Regions from separate parts of the Homo sapiens genome. Here regions 1 and 3 are each linked to region 2. The links come from fine-mapping of genetic effects on gene expression. A gene starts in region 2. Each other region holds a variant in brackets. All regions are shown on one strand. Distances are from middle to middle.

Region 1 (5,219 bases), 99 kb after region 2:
ACAAACAATGTAGGCACAGCAAGCCACTCATCAGCTCTGGGAGTGGTGGGAGCCCTCCCGAAATCTAAGTTCCCAGATGACAGCAGAAAGCCAGCCTTTCAAGCAAGCCCTTCTAAGGACAGCAGTCTCGGGTCTGTTGTGCTAACTCTTTTCTGAACAAGAGAATCAGAATGACATTGTTTCTCCAGCAATCCTGAAAACTAGAGATGATGGAACAAGGTTCCAGAGTCCGGAGGAGAATTATTTCAAATTTAGAGTTCTGTCAGTTAAGTGTGAGGGTCGAATTCTCAGACACGCAAGGCCTCTAAAAATGTATCACCGATTCTTCCTTTCTTGGAAAGCCACTAGAGATGCTGCTCTACCAAAATGAGGGTGTAAACCAAGAAGAGGAAGACCTGGGGTCCAAGAAATGGGATTTAATACGAGAGAGAGAAACGTATTCCTGGATTATGAAGTAAGGCCCCAAGGTAAAGGCTGTGCCTCGGCCCTTGAAGTCACCAGTCCAGAGAAGACCCAGAAGCTCTGGGAAAGGCTCCCTCAGGACAAAGGAACTGATGAAAGTAGTTGGTCACATGGAAAAGAGAGTTATAAACTGGGGAAGAATTAGAAACAATAAAAAAAAAAAGTATGGCAATTACTAACTCCAGGAATAACACAAAGTTGTCTAGAAAAAGAGAAACATTCAGGGCTGGTCTGTCAATAGCATTTTGATAATCAGAATAACAAACACTGAGTACTTATCTGGCCAAAATTATGATATAATTGTTAGAAGGATGATGTGGGGACTGAAATTATGCATTGGCAGGGAGTCAAGTTGGGGGAGCAGGTTGTGTGTGTGAAAGAAATTTCAACCTCATCTTCCATAGTGGACAGTCAAAAATGTAATAGGACATAATGAAAACTGAAACATCGGAAAGTATTAATCTAAGCATTTTTTTTTTTTAAGAAACAGAGTAGAATTCCAAAAGAATCCATTAAGAGAGTTGAAATTGGTTGCCTGTAGGGAGCTGGACATTGAAGAGAGGTTGGGTTGTGGAGGACTATTGTTTGCAAAAACCTTATAGAACAACTTGACTCTTTTAATTGTTGATGACAGTAAAATGTAAAATTAAATTTAGATATAAATTAAAAACAAAGCAAAAGAAGGAAAGGAGGAAGAGTAAGGAAGAAAGGAGGGAGGGAGAAGAGGAGGAAGAAGAGGAGAAGGAAGAAGAGAGAGGGGAAGGAGGGAGGCAGGGAGAAAGATGAAAAGACGATCACGCTGTCTCTGCTCTGGACAGGCCAACTCTTGCTTGTTCCAGACATCACCCTCCCCAAGCATGAGCCTCTCTTGGGAAGAGCAGCTGGAAGCAGAGGGAGCTGGGAGACCAGACACAAACTCGGGGCTCAGCTTGGGGACGGGAGTTGATAGTCAGGTGCCTGGAACATAATGGAGACCGTCCATATTGGTTGAATGAGTGGATGAATGAATTAATGAATTTCTTTTCTCTTAAGTCCTGCAGCTCATTAAGTCACAGAAATTTCTGAATAAGTTGGTGATCTTGGTGGAAACAGAGAAGGAGAAGATCCTGCGGAAGGAATATGTTTTTGCTGACTCCAAAGTAAGTGACAGCAAACTTCTAAAATGGGCTGTGAGGTAGGGAGGGGACACAAGCGTTTTGAGGCTCGCTGTGTGCCAGGGAGTGTATCATTAGCTCACTCAGTTCCCAGAACAACCCATTTCACACCTGGGAAAGGTGAACTTAGAGAAGTTGAGGATCATGTTCCAGGTTGGCCTGGATTTGAGCCATCACTGTCTCAGGAGTAGGGAGGCTTCCCACTTTGCCCAGCTGCCTCCCAGCCTCGAGGCCACATCCTTTATGACCCACATCTAACTCAGCCCCACACCTGGGGGAAAGGCTTTCAGCTTCTCTGGGCTGGACTTGGGAAATCTTTGGGACACTCCTGGATTGATTGATTGATTGATTGACTGACTGACTTGAGACAGCGTCTCGCTTTACCATCTAGGCTAGTGCAGTGGCGTGATCACAGCTCACGGCAGCCTCCACCTCCTGGGCTCAAGGGATCCCCCCACCCACCTCAGCTGAGGTGAGACAAGTAGCTGAGACCACAGACACACACCACCAGCTAATTTTTTATATTTTGTAGAGACAGAGTCTCGCCGTGTTTCCCAGGCTGGTCTCGAACTCCTGGGCTCAGGCAATCTTCCCGCCTCTGTCACCCAAAGTGCTGGTATTATAGGTGTGAGCCACCCCTGGATTTAAATCTGAGTCTCGACTGGAGCTCCATCCCAGAGACTTTCATTTCTACACTTTGCCCCGCTCTGCAGAAGTGAGATGCCCCTGCCAGGATGGGTTCCTGGGGTAAGAGGTGCTGTGGGCCACTGGGGAAACCCAGGCTGGGCCTCTGTGCCCCCACA[G/A]TGGGTTCTTTGTGACCTGACCCCTCATCTCAGAAATTTGAACCAGGGCCAAAACCTATCATCGTGAACCTCATTCATTGTTCTCTGCCATGCAGCTCGTGTGAGGCAGTAAAAATGGATTGCACCAGCCTGAACAGCCTAGTCAGACCCCATGTCTACAAAACAAAAAAATTAGGCCAGGCACAGTGGGTGCCTTATGCCCATAATCCCAGCACTTTGGGAGGCTGAGGCGGGACGGTTGCCCGAGACCAAGAGTTCGAGACTAGCCTGTGCAAGATGGTGAGACCTCATCTCTACGAAAAAAAAAATAGCTGGGTGTGGTGGCATGAGCCTGTAGTTTCAGCTACTTGGGAGGCTGAAGTGGGAGGATCGCTTGAACCCAGGAGTTTGAGGCTGCAGTGAGCTATGATCACACCACTGCACTCCAGCCTAGATGACAGAGCAAGATCCTGTCTCAAAAAAAAAAAAAAAAAAAAGATTGCAGCGCAATAAGGGTGTCCATCACATCAGGTGCTGGCTGACATCTCACATCAGGGACCCCCAGCAAGGCCAAGGGACAAGCGCTTCTGGTGCAGGCCCACAGTGATAGCTTCCCACTGAGTGCCCAGTCTCCGCTCCTACTTTCACCTCCAAAGCATCAGGGGTGGGCTGGTGGGAGGTCTAAGGTGTCCAGAGCTGTCAGGAATAATAGGGAAGGGTCTGGGAGAAACAAGAGAATGGGGCCCAGACAGGTGGTGGGAGATGGAGAGAAAGACCGCTGGGCTGGAATGCTTTCTGAGCACCTGGGCATAGGTTCAAACACCAGCTCTGCCCCATTGCTGCGACCTCAAAAGGACTGAGGCACAGGGATAAATGGAGGCCATGAATCTTGAGCCACTCCCAACTCGAGGCAGGTTATAGTAAAGATGGTCATTATGACATCTTTGTGAGCTGGTGTCTTCAGGGAGGACTTACTGAGATTTGCAATTATAAGGTTGAATCATGTAAAATTTCTGTCTTTGCAGGTTGAAACAGTCAAACACTGGTCATGTCATATGTTACACCCTGAAATTTGTGTACTTTGTTAAAGTCCGCCTGCTCTATTGATTGCATCCTAAGAGAGGGCCAACTGAGGCTGCTTGGTGCCCCACTGGGTACCCCAGAAAAATACGTGAAAAATATTGAGTAGGCTATGAAAGCCTTCATGTCCTCTCTTCTTTTTAATTAGTTTCTTTAATTTAAATGTTCTTTCATTACATAAGTAATCTATTCTCCTTGGTGAAGACGTGGCAAACACAAACAAGCAAATGTTTAAAATAAAAACACTCGTATACCATGAGTTAATCTGGGACTATGCCCCTTCCAGATGTTTTTTAATTTTCTCTTTCTTTCTTCCTTCCCTTCTTTCTTTCTTTTTCTGTTTCTTTTCTTTTCTGAGACAGGGTCTTGTTCAGTTGCCCCGGCTGAAGTGCAGTGGCAAGATCATGGCTCACTGCAACCTCAACTTTCTGGCCTCAAGTAATCCTCCCACCTCAACCTCCTAAGTTGGGAGGGACTACAGGCATGCACCACCATGCCTGGCTAATTTTTTTATTTTTTGTAGAGGCAGGGTTCCCCTATGTTGCCCAGGCTGGTCTCAAACTCCTGGGATCAAACAATCCTTCTGCCTCAGCCTCCCAAAGTCCTGGGATTACAGGCATGAGCCACTGTGCCAGGCCCAAATGTTTTATTAAAAATGCAATGATGCTATTCATATCATTTGTCAACTAGCTTTTCATGCTTAAAAATATATATTGTGGCCACCTGTCCTTGTTGGCAAGATAGTTCTGGATCACACTTGTTAAACACTGTGATATTCTAGTTTATGGATGGTCTAGAATACTTTTTTTTTTTGAGACAGACTCTAGCTCTGTTACCCAGGCTGGAGTGCAATGATGCGATCCTGGCTCACTGCAACCTCCACCTCCTGGGTTCAAGCAATTCTTCTGCCTCAGCCTCCCGAGTAGCTGGCATTACAGGCAAGCACCACCACGCTTGGCTAATTTTGTATTTTTAGTAGAGACAGGAGTTTCACCATGTTGGTCAGGCTGGTCTCGAACTCCTGACCTCAGGTGATCCACCCACCTCGGCCTCCCAAAGTGCTGGGATTACAGGCATGAGCCACCACACCTGGCCCTCTGATACATTATTAATGAATCTCCTAAGGCTGGACAGTAAGGTTGCTTCTGATTTTTTTCTGTGCTGAGGCCTGTGCTGCAGAGCCGTGACAGGGTTGGACTTCTGCGCAGCTCCTGATCACTTTGTTAAAGTCGCACCTTTGCAGGGGAGTGTCTAGGCCAGAAGCCACTCGCTTATGACTTTGGACACATGTTTCCAGGTTGCTGTCCTGGAAGTTCACACTGATTTACGCTCCTCTCAGTTTTCTTGAAGCTGACCAAGTCCTTTGCAAAGTGTAATGTGCAGGGAGGCAGAGGCCTTTCTAAGTCTGTCTGCCCTTCCATCCCTAGAAGAGAGAAGGCTTCTGCCAGCTCCTGCAGCAGATGAAGAACAAGCACTCAGAGCAGCCGGAGCCCGACATGATCACCATCTTCATCGGCACCTGGAACATGGGTGGGTCCGCGCGCCCCCTCCCTGCAGTCACCCCCTCTGCTTCTGCTTTCCTGACTCAGGCATCCTCAAGGTGGGGTGGAGTGACGACATCCATGTCCCCTTCCTTCCTGCCCCAGGGCCCTGCCCCTAAGCCCCAGCCCACCCGCACAACCTCCTTCCTGAGGAATTCCACCCTTTTCCTGAGATGATGGGTAAGAAAAACGAGCTTTGG
Region 2 (5,219 bases):
GATCCACTCCCCTCAGCCTCCCAAAGTGCTGGGATTACAGGTGTTAGCCACTGTGCCTGGCCACTCTCTAGCCATTATTTGAAGTCTTCATTGATAAATCACTATCCCTCACATGAGTTTGTGAATTTTGTAATACGTTAAAATTATTTATATTGACTGGAGACCTACAAAAAAAAAAAATCCACCCACCAAAAGGGCAGCTCTGATCTAGATACTGGGATTTCCTGAATGTGGAGGGCAGAAGGGTGGGGGACAAGCCAGCTGACCATGCTGGATAGATCAGGCAATTGGGTGGAAAAGGAAGCAAAGTTGGGATGGGCCTTAAAAATGAGGGAAGAGTGCCCGTGTGGCGTGTGTGCCAGGGGATCTCACTCTGTGGAATGGCAAGGACCGTGGGAATAGAGGTGTGAGAGGTGGGGGGCTGGGGGTTTGGGGGAAGCTCTCTAAGTAGGGCAGTCTTGGCATGGTAGGGGTCTCTAGAGATGAGTGGGTGGAGGTGTAAAGGGACCAGTATTGCAAATGGATCCTCCTGGTGGCGTGGTCCAGGACTTCATGGATGTTGGTGGAGGCCAGCAGGGAAGTGAGAAGGGTGTGAAGGTACACAATGGGAGCATAGGAGATGACCCCATAAGGAGGGGGTGGACAGGTGCTGAGTGGAGGCGTGGGTGGGGAATGAGAGGCCTCCACACTGGGCTGCTGCAGAGGTGGCGTGCTGCGGAAGGGCCGGAGCATGGAGGCCAGTTCCCATCACCACTCTATCCCCACGCCTGGCTCCCAGCCTGGCCAGAGGTCCTTGACTGGGAGTGCTTTGTCTGCCCTACAGACTCGCCTGCCATGTGTGTTGCTCAGCGGGGAGGTGCTGGGGGCCCTGTTCTGGGACAACCATCAGTGTGACACATGTTGAGCCCCTGGGCACATGTGAGCTCTTTTACGAGCTACGTCCTTCAAGTTAGACAAGAAGAAACCAAGGCCGAGAGAGAGAAGAAACTTGACCAGGTTCCCACAGCTTGAATGTGGTGGCGCTGCCTGGCTGGTGCCCCTTCCTGGAGGGAGTCTGTTGTCATGTCCTGGAGGCCAAGGCCTGGATGTGGGATGGTGGGGGCACTCTTTGTGCAGCGGGTCAACACGTGCCCCTTCGGCCTTGGTGGGCCGGACCCAAGGACGGAAGGTGCCCAGGTCTGGGGGCTGAGGGATGGGTGTCCACCGCAGAGCCCTCAGAAATGACTGGTCCTGGATGGCGGTCCCTGGAGAGGCAGCTCCTCTTTGAGTGGTGGGCATATGTGGCCATGCCCAGTCTTGGAGGCGGTGCAGTCCGACCGGCCACCCCGACTGCTGAGACGCAGGACTCAGCACCCAGTGTTGTCCTTGGCCAGGCGGCCAGCCTGCCCTGTGGGGCTTTGGGGTTCTCCTCTCCGAGCTTGTTTCCCCAGCATCCTGGAGAAGCCCAGGGAAAAACCCAGCCTATGTTCCCGCTGTAAACGGCCCACATCCCCTCCAAGCTCCCTTTGTGTGTCTCCAAGCTGGACTGCAGGGATCAGAGCTGTGCTGCCCGTGCAGCACCCACCCGCCCCTGGGAATGAGGGTAATGGGGTCACAGAGCCATCACTTGGACCTTGGCGCCCTCGGCTGGTGGCAGCCAAGGTCTCCCAGCACCCAGGCCGCTGGGAGTCTCTAAAGGGGAGGGGTGGGGCTCGACTGTCCCCTCCCCCTCAAGTTTGCTCTGTCCTGGGCAGGCCGTAGTCCCAGTTGAGAAGCTGTGCCCCCTTGGGTGTTTTGGAGGTTCAGGGTGGGTGCTGAAAAGCCCTGAGGGAGAGCAGAAGGCTCGGGGGCCTGTCTAGGGCATGGCATCCCACGTGGGTGTCAGCACGGCCGCAGAAGAACCACTTCTCTGGCCCACCCATGCCTGCTAGGCCATGCTTCTTCAGAAGTGGCCACAACTCTCCTGACGTCTCCAGAGCCGGTCATTCCACCCAGGGGGACTTCAGCTGCCACTGGACACTTCAATTGTACGCTGCGACCAGTTGCCAGGAAGGAGAGGGCTGGCAAGAGAGCCGCGGCAGCCGTGGCAGGGTGTAGGGGACGGTGGACGGCCAGGGCCCCCCCCTCTCTCTCTTTCTCTCTCTCTCTCTTGCTTGGTTTCTGTAATGAGGAAGTTCTCCGCAGCTCAGTTTCCTTTCCCTCACTGAGCGCCTGAAACAGGAAGTCAGTCAGTTAAGCTGGTGGCAGCAGCCGAGGCCACCAAGAGGCAACGGGCGGCAGGTTGCAGTGGAGGGGCCTCCGCTCCCCTCGGTGGTGTGTGGGTCCTGGGGGTGCCTGCCGGCCCGGCCGAGGAGGCCCACGCCCACCATGGTCCCCTGCTGGAACCATGGCAACATCACCCGCTCCAAGGCGGAGGAGCTGCTTTCCAGGACAGGCAAGGACGGGAGCTTCCTCGTGCGTGCCAGCGAGTCCATCTCCCGGGCATACGCGCTCTGCGTGCTGTGAGTACAACCTGCTCCCTCCCCGGGCACAGATATGACAGAGGGGCTTAGAGGGGGCCCAGCTTTGAGATGGGTTGTTCTTATGTCACAGGACAGAGTGATCTGACATGCACACTTCCCCGCCACCCTGTCATGGACCTTGTCCTTGGAGTTCAGAGAGCTGGTCTCATGGCAGGTTTTGCAGCCTTGGAGCTGTCAGAACCACTCTGAGGCCTGATGTTACACCCCAGCTTCCCATGAGCTGTATGGACCTTGTGGCTTCCTTGGAGTCTGGGGACCGAGAGAAGGGAGTTTGGGCTTTTGGAGCCAGGAGGAAGCTCAGGGCTCTGTGGAGGTGGGTGTGTTAGAGATCAGCTCAAAGATGCCCAGCTCAGAAACCCTGAGAAGAGCAAAGGTGGCAAGGGGGACCCTTCCTGGAGCACCCAGGCTTCGGGCCCCTGGAGGAAGCTGTTGTTTGGCGAGCCAAGAATATGGGGTGAGTTTAATCAAGAAAGGACTTTCCATTCAGTCAGAAGCTGCTTTCAGGGGCCTGAGAGCAGAGGAAGTCACCATTACCACCAGCGAGCAGCCTCTTCTCTCTCCTGAGCACTTGGCTGTGACCGCTGCCCACCCCCCACCCCCTCAATTTGGGTCTCTGTCACCATCAACTCCTCCCACTGCCCGGTTGGGGATGTTACTGAATGTACCAGCTGTGCTAACAATGGAGGAACCAGCCACTTGCTGAAGGTTCCTTTCTAAAACCCCCTTCCTGTCCAGCGTCTGAAGGAGGCCCTTGCCCTGCAGCTCTCGGTCTAATCATAGGGGGGCCTTGCCCTGCAGCTCTTGGTCTAATCATTTTGCCGGGGCCTCAGGCAGTGCCGGAGTGTAGTCAGGGAAATGTGTGTCCACCTGAACATCTCAAGTAGCATCCCTGGGCTGGCAGAAATGTTCCCCCGAGCAGCCAGGGCCTTGTGCTTCTCCAGGCAGGAGGGGAATTGGGTGATGAACCCAGACCTGTTTTGAATACTGACTCACAGCTGGGACCTGTCGTGCTAAGCATTTGTTAGCCCATTTCATCCTCACCACAACCTAAAGTGAAGGTCCTGTTAAAAGCCCCACTTTGCAGATGAGAAATCTGAGGCCCTGGCAGGTTAAGTGAGTGACAACAGTCAAAGCCACGGCCATCTGCCCCCAGAGGCTGCAGCTGAGACCAGCAGCCTGTGGCCCAACCTCTCCTGCTCCCAGTCCAGCGGGGCAGGCATGTAGCCTTGCAGGGCTGGAGAAAGAAGCAAGGGGAGCCACAGTGTTTACAGGGTCAGCTGGGGCACTGGAAACCAAGCCAGGCTCGCAGCTGGTCGCTGGCCTGTGCTGACAGTCTGCAGCCCCACCTCCAAAGACTGGTTTCCTGTGTCCCCTCTCTCATGCCTCAGGGGAAGGAACGCAGGCCCAGGCTGCCTGGACTTCCCCAGTGGGGACCTGCTGCTGCCGGGGCCTTAGAAGGAGCAGGAAGATTCTCTTAGGCCTCTCACAAGCCCAGTCTGACTCCACCTGGCCCATGTGGGTTACTTGGATTTCTCTCCTGGCCCAGTGGGATCTTGTCCTGGCTGTTTGGTGTTGGCTGAGCCGAGGGCTTCCAGGGCCCCATCTCATTAACCTTCAACACAGCCCTTTGACCAGGGCTTGCTTTGTGGTTGCTCAGGTTACAGACATGGGGCGTGGGTCTCTCTGACTCCGAGCCGTGAGCATCTTAACGTCTAGGATTAGCCTGAGCCAGAGTCAGAGCTGGAGAGGCCTTGGAGAAGCTCTGGTGCAACAGCCCTGGCTTTTCAGGAGGTAGACAGAGGGCAGAGAGCCTGAGGCCTTTGTCCACCATGCTGGCTGGGGTCAAAACTGCTGGGATCCAGGCCAGTTCTCGTATTCCTTCCTCTACCTCTTCTCTCTGAACCCTTGTCTGCACTGAGTTCTCTCAGAGTCATGATGGGTGTGCAGTGTCTGCTCCTTAGAGAGGGACCTGTGGTGCCTACAGATGTCCACTATCCTCTCAGCCGAAGCCTCGTCAGCCTCCTATCCTGAGGCTGCTGGGCTGCAAACACCAGGAGTCCCACCCCTTGGCCAGACAAACCCTGGGCTCAGTGTTTCCCTTTCTCCTCTGCTCAGGGTGGGAAGCTTCCCTTCCTGCAGGGTCAGGCTCCACTGTAGGCCGTGGGTTGCTATGGACCTGCAGACTTTCCATACATCTGCAGGCTTCATATGGCTGCCACCCTGGATTTTGCCAATTACGGAGATTTTAAAACTAAAAACTAATTAAATGAATGATAACAAACTGTCATCTTCCAACACCTCATTTCTTGAAAGAAAGCAGCCTTTGACACCAAAAGAGGCAGGAAGGGCATTAAAAAAAAAAAAGCCAGTCATTTAAAGCAAAGAGATTGAACTTCTTGAAAAACAAACCCTACCACCCTTAGTTTTCTGTGTTCCCTGCAGAGTCGCCGTGGCCTGACGGAGACGGCAGAGGCAGACAGTCCCAGGCTGAGGGGTGTGCAGGGCAGCCGGGTTTTCTGCGGCTGCAGAAGTAGCAGGCTTTGCCCCCCTAGCCCTGGAAGCCTGGAGCCACCCTGCTCTAGAAGTGACTGCAGAAGGAAGCCACACACTCACCCTCCTGCCCTAGCAAAGTCCATGGGAAAAGTATACCTGCCCCATGGCCCCTCAGATCACCCAGGTGCCCTGACCTCATCCTGCCTGGGCCCCAGCAGCACTCCC
Region 3 (5,219 bases), 110 kb after region 2:
CTCCAGCCTGGGTGACAGAGCGAGACTCTATCTCAAAAAAAAAAAAAAGTCCTTAGAACAACCAAGGCCTTTCTAAGAGTGTGCCCTAAGCAAGGCTGTGTGCTGAATGCTTTGAATCATCTCATTTGATATAAACACCCTGCTAGGCACGATGGCTCATGCCTATAATCCCACACTTTGGGAGGCCAAGGTGGGAGGACCTCCTGAGACCGGGAGTTTGAGACCAGCCTGGGCAACATAGGAAGGTACCATTTCTACAAAAAAAAAAAAAAAAAAAATGGCATAGTAGTGCATGCCTGTGGGCCCAGCTACTCAGGAGGCTGAGGTGGGAGGATCACTTAAATCTGGGAGGTCAAGGCTACAGAAAGCCATGATTTTGCCACTGCACTCCAGCCTGGGCGACACAGACTTTGTCTCAAATTAGAAAAAAAAATACAAACACTCGGGCAGGGACTCTTATTATTCCCATTTGCAGATGAAGAAACAGAGTCTATGGAGATGATCCATAACTTGCCCAAGGCCCCGGGATAAGAATGTGGTGGGCAGGGATTGAAACCAGGCTGTCGGGACTGGAACCAGTTGCTCAGTTCCAGGTCACCCTCCCAGGTTGCGGGCAGAGGGGCAGGGCTGGAGAGCTAGGTGCAGTGGAGAGGGCTGGAGGGCAGAAAGCCTGTGTACTCCCCCACTGGGTCCTGACAAGGTTGAGCCAGGTGATATCCAGGGGTCCCTTCAGCCTATGGCCTATCCAGAGCTGTCCAACCAAAAGAAAATGGGGCCGGGTGCCGTGGCTCACGCCTGTAATCCTAGCACTTTGGGAGGCTGAGGCAGGCAGATTGCCAGAGCTCAGTAGTTTGAGACCAACCTGGGCAACACGGTGAAACCTCGTCTCTACTAAAATACAAAAAATTAGCTGGGTGTGGTGGTGGGTGCCTGTAGTCCCAGCTACTCCTGAGGCAGAGACAGGAGAATTGCTTGAACCTGGGAGACGGAGGTTGCAGTAAGCAGAGATCGCGCCACTGCACTCCAGCCTGGGAGACAGAGTGAGACTCTGTCTCCAAAAAAAAAAAAAAAAAAAAGAAAGAAAGGAAGAAAAGAAAATGATGGGAGCCAAATAGATCATAAATAAATAGATTTATGATCAAAATAGATTACAATTTGATTTATTACAATCAATAGATCAAATTTTCTAGTAGCCACATTAAAAAGAAAACAAGTGAAATTAATTTCAATAATAGATTTTATTGAATTTCATACATCCAAAATACAATTATTTCAATAGATATTTAATGTAAAAGGTTATTAGATATTTTACAGTCTGTGTTTCTTACCAAGGCCACAATTCCAATGTGTATTTTACACTCACAACCTGTCTCATTTTGTACCAGCCACATTTCAGGTGTTTGATAGTCACATGTGGCCTGTGCCTGTATTGGACAGAGCAGGTTCTCACCTGCATGTGTCAGAATCACCTAGAGCAGGGGTTAACAAGCGTTTTCCATAGAAGGCCAGATGGTGAATATTCTAGGCTCTTTGGGCCACACAACTGTCACAATGCTTCAGCTCTGCCATCGTAGTCTGAAAGCAGCTACAGACAATCCAGAAGTCAATAGGCATGGCTGTGTTCCAGTAACGTGTTCTTTACGAACACTGAAATTTGAATTTCGTATTTTCATGAATGACAAAAGATGGTTTTTCTTTTGATTTGTTTCCAACCATTTACAAATGTAAAACCATTTGTAGCTGGCAGTGAGCCAGCATTTGCCCACCCCTGACACTGGAGGGCTTGTCAAACACAGATTACTGGGCCCCATCCCAGGATTTCAGATTCAGTAGGTCTGGGGTGGGGCTGAGAATCTGCCCTTCCATGAAGTTCCCAGGTGATGTGCAGCTGCTGGTCCAGGGAACTCCCTTTGGGAACCACTGACCTAGAATAGATCAGAACGTTGGCAGAAAAAGGTATGATCTCAGTGTGGGTTTTTGGTCTCCCCAGGAAACTTGAGTTCACTGGGAGGGAGATCAGCCCACCCAGGCTGGAACCTTCTGAATCTTCCCAGGGCTTCTGGCTGCCCGCTTAGCACCCTGGTCACTTTAGAGAGAGATGCCGGGGGAGGATCGCAGCAGCCACCTTCCTCTGCCCCGCCGAGAAGGCTGAGGCTGCCGCCATCTGCACTGCTCCTGCATTTTCTCATCTCCCGCTCTCTGCCCAGCGGCTCCCACCCTGCACGACCCTGTTTCGCCCATCCCTTGCCAGCTCCTCACTCACTGCCCCTCTCACCCTGCCTTCGGGTGATTTCTGGCCCCTTGGCAAGTGTGTCTGTTTGATATTTTGATTCTTCTTTCTGCTCTTCTTTTTAGGGAACAAGGGAGCCGTGGGGGTGTCGTTCATGTTCAATGGAACCTCCTTAGGGTTCGTCAACAGCCACTTGACTTCAGGAAGTGAAAAGAAACTCAGGTAATGGAACTCCTTCCCCCCAAGAGTGTGCATTTGGGCTGTCTGCCCAGACACGCCTCACACCTTTAAGCACCAGAAGGACCTGCTCAGCTCCTGCCTTTGACCTTGTGGATGTCCTGTGGCCTTTCAGGGCCCACCACAGTCTCATCAAAGGCAACTGCAGCACCATAGTGACCTCACGTGTGGAGGAATTTTGTCTGAAGGTCAGAAAAGATATTTCCTTGTGTCATTAGCCTGATGGACCGCTAACTAGCACTGTTTCTAAAGCAGAAAGCCTCCTCTGGGGCCTCCTTACAAATCCAAGCTGATCTTGCCTAGCTGGGGCCCAGGAATGAAGACAGCCATCTAGAATCTTCAC[T/C]GTTCTGATTCTCTGCTGAGCAGATGCTGCTGCTCCTGGTCCCCTGCCCTCTGTACACCCAATGTGGCCTCAAATGCCCTTTGCATCCTGGCTGTGCCATATTTGCACACTAAGGAGTTCTGCTGCAGCAGGGCTGGAGGGCTAAGTCTCACTTCCCCCCACCTGCTATGCTCCTCGCCCCACACCTATGGCAGGAGTGACTTCCTGCCACAGTGGAGGGGGAACCAGTGACCCCGTGCTAGATGGCCGCTTTTTCCTTGCATTAGGCGAAACCAAAACTATATGAACATTCTCCGGTTCCTGGCCCTGGGCGACAAGAAGCTGAGTCCCTTTAACATCACTCACCGCTTCACGCACCTCTTCTGGTTTGGGGATCTTAACTACCGTGTGGATCTGCCTACCTGGGTAAGGGCTGCCCGCCTGGGGCTGGGGCTGGGGCTGTATGAGATGGAGGCTCCCTTGAGTCAGCTTGGGGCAGGTGGTCGTGGAGACATGTGAATCAAGTGGGCTGAGGCGGCTGCTCCCCTTGGGGGCTCAACGCTGTTTCCATTACTGAGCCTCAGCCGCTCCTCACGGTTCCCCTGTGCTCACACCCGGTTCCCATAACTGTCACAGCCACCCTGCCACCATCACTCTGCAGCCCGGGTCATCCAGCTGCCCGCCCCCAGCCCCGAAGCTTGTCAGGCCTGGATCAGCAGGGCTTCTCACCAGAGGCCCGGGCATGTTCTTGTTCCAGGAGGCAGAAACCATCATCCAGAAAATCAAGCAGCAGCAGTACGCAGACCTCCTGTCCCACGACCAGCTGCTCACAGAGAGGAGGGAGCAGAAGGTCTTCCTACACTTCGGTAAGAGCAGCAACCCCGGCTGGGAGCGGTGGCTCACACCTGTAATCCCAGCACTTTAGGAGGCCGAGGCGGGCGGATCACGAGATCAGGAGATGGAGACCATCCTGGCTAACACAGTGAAACCCCGTCTCTACTTAAAAAAATACAAAAAATTAGCCGGGTGTGGTGGCGGGTGCCTGTAGTCCCAGCTACTTGGGAGGCTGAGGCAGGAGGATGGTGTGAACCAGGGAGGCAGAGCTTGCAGTGAGCCAAGATCGCGCCACTGCACTCCAGCCTGGCCAACAAAGACAGACTCCGTCTCAAAAAAAAAAAAAAAAAAAGCAGCAGCCTCTCCTCTTGGAGCCTTTCCAGCCATCCTTTCGTCCCCTTTCCCCTGATTTCCTACCAGAAGAATAGGGAAAATTGGCCAGATGCAAAACCTGGGGAATCAGAATTAAAACGAAAGTCTCTCTGTTTCAGAGGAGGAAGAAATCACGTTTGCCCCAACCTACCGTTTTGAGAGACTGACTCGGGACAAATACGCCTACACCAAGCAGAAAGCGACAGGGGTGAGTCCTCTTCATAGACACCTTCCCTGCCCTCCATCTCCTCCCCGCTGGTGTCTGTTCCCAAAAGGTGAACAGAAAGTGTCTTCATCCATTAGGCAAAAAAAAAAGGAAAGAAAAAAATTAGAAAGCACATGTTGATTTGTGTTACAGAGTAAATGGGAAGCCACACTTGTGCACTGCTTTGAGCTGGGAAAATAACCCTTGTGATTTACCTTCTGTCCAGATACTCTAAGATGCTGAGAGGACTTTAAAGTATTATTTCCTTAACTGGGTTCTGAAGATCATTTTTTTAAAGTCCCGTGATCAAATATATTTACTAAACTGCTGAGTGAATTAACATTAAGCAGGTTTCTTCGCTGCAGGACTTATCAGAGCTTTTATGGGCCCAAGAGCACTGTGGTTCTCCATGAGGAAATCTGTATGCCAAACTCAGTTATTCATGGAACACCAATTAATGTCTTATGAGGCCACTTGTTTTCCAAGGAACAGTGTTTTGGGGAAAGATGCAATAAAATATGTATTCATTTGTTCAAAGATATTTCCTGATGGCCTATTATGGGTTAGGCACTCTCCTAGGTGATGGGAGAGCAAAGATGTCTTTTCCAGGGACTTCACAGTAGGAAAAACAGATATGCAACTAGCTGTAGCCAGAGCCAGAATGTGACAATGCCAGGGCAGGGAAGGATCAGGGAAGCCAGCCCCTGGCAGGATTCAAGGGTCAAATGGCTGGGACGGTGAGGTACCCAGGCCCACTAGAAGCCTAGGGCAATGGAGCGCAAGTTCAAAGTGTCATCTGAAAGAGTTCTGGGCCCCATCTGGGCTCAGGAGAAAGTGAAGAACTGGACGTGGGAGAGGAAGGCCAAGCGCTGGGTGGATTTTAGAACAGAGCAGGAGAGGAAGAGAATACAACTGAGAGGACAGGAGGAGATCCCGGACTGCTGTCACCCACGAGGCTGGGACCCCCAGGATGGGACACCCCATTCCGCAGGGTCCACTGCCTGCTGTGTGGATAAGGT

Direction of the effects. Positions count from the first base shown, and alleles are read on the strand shown. Sizes are in standard deviations (SD) of each study's normalised expression. Not every link is listed here.
In carriers of allele G in region 1, the expression in testis of the gene that starts at base 2,210 in region 2 tends to be lower than with A alone (moderate effect, 0.68 SD a copy in GTEx).

What was found. PIP is the estimated chance that this variant, and not a neighbour inherited with it, causes the effect.
Region 1: its variant is fine-mapped to the expression of INPP5D in testis (GTEx, PIP above 0.99).
Region 3: its variant is fine-mapped to the expression of INPP5D in whole blood (INTERVAL, PIP above 0.99).

Annotation. Positions count from the first base shown.
Region 1 is chr2:233,156,819-233,162,037 of GRCh38, forward strand. INPP5D (inositol polyphosphate-5-phosphatase D) reads left to right here. Exons shown (of 27, transcript NM_001017915.3): 10 at 1,495-1,601; 11 at 4,906-5,008. Among named protein-coding and RNA genes, the nearest start is that of ATG16L1, 92 kb to the right of the region's middle. The variant G/A (reference allele first, on the strand shown) is at 2,420.
Region 2 is chr2:233,058,133-233,063,351 of GRCh38, forward strand. INPP5D (inositol polyphosphate-5-phosphatase D) reads left to right here and starts at 2,210. Exons shown (of 27, transcript NM_001017915.3): 1 at 2,210-2,480. The coding sequence starts at 2,347. RefSeq lists enhancers at 1,885-2,164, 2,765-2,854, 3,941-4,534, 4,535-5,128, 5,141-5,219 and silencers at 2,365-2,444, 4,515-4,564.
Region 3 is chr2:233,166,950-233,172,168 of GRCh38, forward strand. INPP5D (inositol polyphosphate-5-phosphatase D) reads left to right here. Exons shown (of 27, transcript NM_001017915.3): 14 at 2,356-2,452; 15 at 3,077-3,215; 16 at 3,547-3,655; 17 at 4,115-4,203. Among named protein-coding and RNA genes, the nearest start is that of ATG16L1, 82 kb to the right of the region's middle. The variant T/C (reference allele first, on the strand shown) is at 2,811.